2 separate regions of the Homo sapiens genome follow, and region 1 is linked to region 2. The links come from fine-mapping of genetic effects on gene expression. A gene starts in region 2. The other region holds a variant in brackets. All regions are shown on one strand. Distances are from middle to middle.

Region 1 (2,912 bases), 820 kb before region 2:
GAACATCAAAAAATTATTTTAAAAATTATTCATCATACTCTCCTGGGGAGGTGAACTCTTAGCATTTTATGTATACTCTCCCTCTCTCAATCGACTTACCTCTAAGTTTATGTGAGGATGTATTTTATTTTATTTTTTACATAAGACTTAATACCTGGAAGGATTTATTTTGTTATCCATACATTTATACATACAACTATATCATACTTATTAATAATATAAGTAACAACAAATATTACGTGATGTAATATTTGTTCAAGTGTGCATGTTTTTCTTTTTCAGTTAACAGTATCTAACAAACATTTTTCTTATCATGGACTCTTCTAAAATATCCATTTAAATGACTATAATATTCCATCATATTGTTCAGTTTCTTAAACTGGGGTCCACAGTCCCTGGAGGATTTATAGGGATTCATAAGTTCACTCTGGACATTTTTTTAATTCTTATTTTTTTGGGAGGTCAAGGCAGGTGGATCACCTGAGGTCAGGAGCTCAATACCAGCCTGGCAAACATGGTGAAGCTCCATCTCTACTAAAAATACAAAATTAGCCAGGCATGGTGGTGCATGCCTGTAATCCCAGCTACTTGGGAGGCTGAGGCAGGAGAATCACTTGAACCCGGGAGGCAGAGGTTGCAGTGAGCCGAGATCACACCGCTGCACTCCAGCCTGGGCAACAAGAGTGAAACTCCATTTCAAAAAAAATAAATAAAAATAACTTCTCATTTTTTAAAGATATAAGTAGGAATTACCAGGAGAAAGAATTAGGGAAGAGCCTCCAGAGAAGGTAGAGAGCCCATGCAATAGTGTTGATGTATGAAGGAACAGGTATCAGATATTTAGGATGGTCTGTTGGGGGCACAGGGGAAAGGACCTTGCCTGATGGGGACTGGTGGAAAATGAGTTTATTTTGGTAGAACGGGAGCCATGTCAGGCTTTCCACTTCCTTCCTGCTGCATTGACAGGTATTGAGGCATTTTGTGGCAGGACATGGGCCATTTGCCTCTTTTCAATAGCACTGACCAGTAAGTCTTGTAAGACCTTGTCATATTTATTCATTCATTTTTTATTCATTCATTCATTCACCAAGAATTTGTGGAGAATGTATCAGCTGTTACTGTGCGATAGATTACCCCCAAAATTTAGCAACAACGATAAACTTGTATTATCTTTTATAATTTCTACAGCTCAGGAATTCAAGAGCAGCTTAGCTGGGTGGTCCCAGCTCAGGGTCCTCCCTGAGACTGTAGTCAAGAGGTCAGCTGGGGTTACAGTTGTCTGAAGGCTTGATTCAGCCTGGAGGATCTGCTTCCAAGTGGCTCATTCACTCA[C/T]ATGTTGGCAGGAGACTTTGGTTCCTTGTCATGTGACCTCTCCATAGGGTTCCTTGAGCACCCTCACACCATGGCAACTGGCTTCTCCTACAGCAAGTGATTTAAGAAAGAGCAATGAGGAAGCTGCAATATGTTTTACAACCTTGGCTAAGTAGTCACTATCATTTCTGCAATATCATGTTCACTCATGGGCCAGCCTTATTCAGGTTGGCCCTACTCAGTGTGGGAGGGGTTTGCACTGGGTGTGAGCCTCAGAAAACAAGAATGATTGGGGACCATCTTGGAGGCTGGCTATCACAGAGTGGTGAGCAAGGCCAAGTACTAAGGACAGAAATTGAATTAGATGTTCTTGCACTCAGGAAAATTACTGTGCCATTGATGTGCACAATTGGAGCTCCAGTTGGAGGTCCAGTTGGAGATCACCTTAAAGGTACAGACAAATGCTCCAATTGGAGGTCACCTTAAAGGTACAGACAAAAAGGGTTGGTCTCAGCCTAAAGGCCTTCTCTGCTCACTGTGAGCCAGCATCACTGCACTGCCAACAAAGGCTCATGAGCAGAACCCTCTTGAGCAAAACCAAGGACCAGACTCATGGTCTGCAACAAATTTGGTTCCATTTTGTTCAACCACAGGACAGTCAGTATGAAGTGATATGAAGTAAAAGAGGACCAGGAGGTCAGGCCCTAGCTCAGATTCCCTGCCTAACCTAGAGGTCATCTCACTTCCTGTTCTGACAGGTGCTTTTAACACTTCCTAGAGCAGCCTTAGGCCTACATGAGCATAGGAAAAGACTCTGGACTCCAAAGATTCTCTTCCTTCTTTGGCAACAGTAACATGTACGTTTCCTCCCATCATTGGAAGACAATTGATCTCCCGTGCTTTGTTTTGAGTTAGGCTTAAGGGCGCAGGTTCTTTCCTTGGTTCCTTGGTTCTTTCCTTCCTTCCTTCCTTCCTTCCTTTGTTCCTTGGTTTCTTGGTTTCTTTCTTTCTTTCTTGGTTTCTCTCTCTCTCTCTCTCTTTCTTTCTTTCACAGGGTCTTACTCTGTTGCCAAGGCTGGAATGCAGTGGCATGATCACAGCTTACTGCATCCTTGACCCCCTGGGCTCAAGCGATCCTCCCACCTCTACTTCCCTAATAGCTGGGACTACAGGCATAAGACACTACATCCAATTAATTTTTATTCTTTTTTTTTTTTAGAGATGGGGTCTCCCTATGTTGCCCGGGCTGGTCTAAAACTACTGGCCTCAAGCCATCCTCCAACCTTGGCCTCCCAAAGTGCTGGGATTACTGGCATAAGCTACCACACCTGGCCCAGGTTTCTCCTGTTTCAGAACTTGGGAGTGGAAAAAGGTCGCATAACTTTTGAGAAAATCACGACTATCAAAGTATGAAATCACTGAACTTCAGTAAGACAGAAGGGAAAGGCAACAGAGAGAACCAAGGTCTCTGCTGATGTGCAAGGAGCCAAACCCTGTGGATGCCACCTCAGCTCTATTACCAGGAAGCCTTGCCCCAACAGAATAACATCCAAACCTCCAAGAGAAAGCTTCTACCTGGTGGACCTTGGTGTGATGACACA
Region 2 (2,879 bases):
TTTCTCACAGCTGGCCAAACCATGACAACTGGTTTGTACGCAGTCCTTGTGAAAAGGATGAAAGCGTCCTAGACAACCAAATTAATTCGCTCTTCAAAAGCGGTGCTAGACAAAGCCCATGACTCTAGAGGGCACTGAAGAGAAAAAAGCACAACTATTCTACAGGGGCATATTCTACTATTCTGCAGGGGCATAATAAATCTTAAGAATGCTGTTCCTTTAAAGACCAATACAAAAGCAGGTACGACCTCAGGGCCCATAGTGCAAGGGCGGAGGGCACACGGACAGCGGCTAGACGCCCCACAGAAAGACAAGTCCGGGGACGACCCTTCTGACCGCTCTTTTTACAGCCAGGACCCAAGTGTCCTACCGGCCTCGCCCCAGTGCCTCTCTCTCTCCCACAGCATACTGCTGTTCCACGGCCTCGAAGCGAAGAGGTGGTGAAGCTGAGAGACCCTATCCAGGGAACCCGCCAGCGCGACGCGGCGTCTGAAGGTCACGAGCCCCGCCGACAGCCCAGACCCAGTCCGGGCTAGCCCGAGGCCTCCCTGGAGGTGGACGGTTTCAGTCCACACATACTGGGACCCCAGGGAGACACTCACCAGCATCCGAGCCTGCCATGTTTCAGAGGCAGGTCGCCGCCGGACTCCGACGCGGCCGGGAAGGCGACGGTGTCCTGGAAGGACCGATCCACGCAGACCCGACACTGGGGCGCGGACGCACGAACCAAAGCGCGGGGAAGGAGGCGTGAAAGAAGGACGGACGTTAAAAGAGCTTCTCGCCGCTGATTGGTCATCAGAGGAGCACTTCCTTTCACAGGACGTGAAACGGGGGCGGTTTGGGAAGTTTAGAGACCATTCTCCGCCGACCAAAACCCGTCAAAGGATTATCAGACACGCGGGTCGGACGGTCCACATCAGCCGGCAGCCCGGGCGGGTCCCGGGGTGCGAGCAGCGCACTTCCGGTGAGCTATTTCGTTTTGTATCCCTCCGCCGACGTCAACGGGAAAGTAGTGCGGACCGCTCTCTCGGTGGTCCGGGGTGGTACAGCCACGTGACAACGCCAGGCCCCGCCTTCCCCCTCTTTTGGTTACAGACGTGAGGGCTCTTTGGAGACGTAAACATCTCCGAGTGGCGAGGGTGGGCGGGGCTGGGCTTGGGAAAGGGCGGGGTGGCTTGCTTGAGGTGTGGAAAGACCAGAAGAAGGTGAGGTCAAGAGAGTGCAGAATGAGGCATTCCAATGGTGGGTGGGCCCTGACCTGAGAGAGTGGCGCGGGGAGGGGTGAAAGCGCGGCGATCCTGGAACGCCAGCGGGCGTTGCGGCCTATGCGCGAGGGGCGGGGCGATTAGGTCATAGAGCGGCTCCCAGCGTTCCCTGCGGCGTAGGAGGCGGTCCAGACTATAAAAGCGGCTGCCGGAAAGCGGCCGGCACCTCATTCATTTCTACCGGTCTCTAGTAGTGCAGCTTCGGCTGGTGTCATCGGTGTCCTTCCTCCGCTGCCGCCCCCGCAAGGCTTCGCCGTCATCGAGGCCATTTCCAGCGACTTGTCGCACGCTTTTCTATATACTTCGTTCCCCGCCAACCGCAACCATTGACGCCATGTCGGGTTATTCGAGTGACCGAGACCGCGGCCGGGACCGAGGGTGAGTTTGGGAGCCGAGCTGTCAGGCCTGGCGGGTGGGGGGATGGGAGGGCGGGTCAGGGTGGCGGCCGGCGGGGGCTTTGCGGCTTGGACTTGGCCTTTCCGGGCTATCTTGGGACTTCCTTTCCCGAAGGCTTGCGCCATTTTGATATTCACGTCACAGTGATTGGAAGAGATTTGACGGTGTAGTGTCTTCAAGCTTGCTTTTTGTGTGGGGATTGGGGAGCTGTCGGGGCGGCTGCCATTTGGTAGCTGTTGAGGGAGTTGAGAGGGAGCGTATTGTGCGGATGAAAGCGGGACGCTTCGAGGCAGACGAAGGAACATCTGTTAGGTGCGGCGTTTCGGGAGGTGTTTTTGGGGTGGCCGGGCATTCTGTGGGAGCGAGGGGACCACTTCCAAAGCCCTGGTGCTGTTGGGGTAGGAGGGCGGCCGGCATCAGCCATGTGGCTGAGTCGCGAGTACAAAATGCCGGCCTCGGACATGGCGGCGGCGCCTTTGTTACCCCGCCCGGCGGAGGAGCTCAAAATGGCAGCGTCGAGAAAATGTGGCGCAGAGAGAAATGCGAGACAAAGGGGGAAGCGCCGCCCCAGCGGGAACGCCGCCCGGCCGACTCCGCCCGGGCCGGGACTCCTCCCCCGGTAGTCGCCGGCTCCTCCTTTTCTTTTTTCCTGCGTTATATAATTTTGATTCGTTGATCCGGAGCTCTACCGCGGCGTTCCCCCAGCTGGGTTTGCTAGCAGAAGTGTTTCTGAGAAAACCCTTGTTCTGTTATCGCTGACTGTACTGTTTAGGTTCTTACCACTAAAGCTGTTTGGTTCCAAAACGGCCATATGAGTAACATCGTCGTGATGCTCTTCGGTTCATGTAGCCTTGTTATTGCTGATAGTGAATTGCTAGGCTGGTGGGGAAGATTACAGTAACCACAAGAAGTGGTGTGTGCCAGAATCCCAAATTCTGGCATGTGGGTGACAAGTTTCCGACATGATAAATCCCCGGCTTCCGACATGATAAATCCCAGGCTGTTTACATGACCTAAGTAATGTGTACTTGGGACTACGGGAAATGTTAACTGTGGCTGTTGAGAGAGAGAGAGATTTTCACGAAGGACAGTGCTAGGTTTACCTCTCGAAGTCTGTTTTCAGTGGTTTTTAGCTTGTGCCAATGGATGACAAATCTATACAGAAACCTGGGTATAGCCATTTGAAAATGTGAATAACGTTTTTTTTCATTCCAGGTT

Evidence for each region.
Region 1: its variant is fine-mapped to the expression of DDX5 in gastroesophageal junction (GTEx, PIP above 0.99).

What each region holds. Positions count from the first base shown.
Region 1 is chr17:65,327,272-65,330,183 of GRCh38, reverse strand. No RefSeq gene overlaps it. Among named protein-coding and RNA genes, the nearest start is that of LINC02563, 130 kb to the left of the region's middle. The variant C/T (reference allele first, on the strand shown) is at 1,333.
Region 2 is chr17:64,504,840-64,507,718 of GRCh38, reverse strand. It overlaps DDX5 (DEAD-box helicase 5), which reads left to right and starts at 1,430. Exons shown (of 13, transcript NM_004396.5): 1 at 1,430-1,643; 2 at 2,877-2,879. The coding sequence starts at 1,600. CEP95 (centrosomal protein 95) reads right to left here and starts at 742. Exons shown (of 20, transcript NM_138363.3): 1 at 603-742. The coding sequence starts at 621. RefSeq lists enhancers at 1-568, 550-639, 840-1,079, 1,780-1,909, 1,970-2,179 and 1 more and a silencer at 2,270-2,339.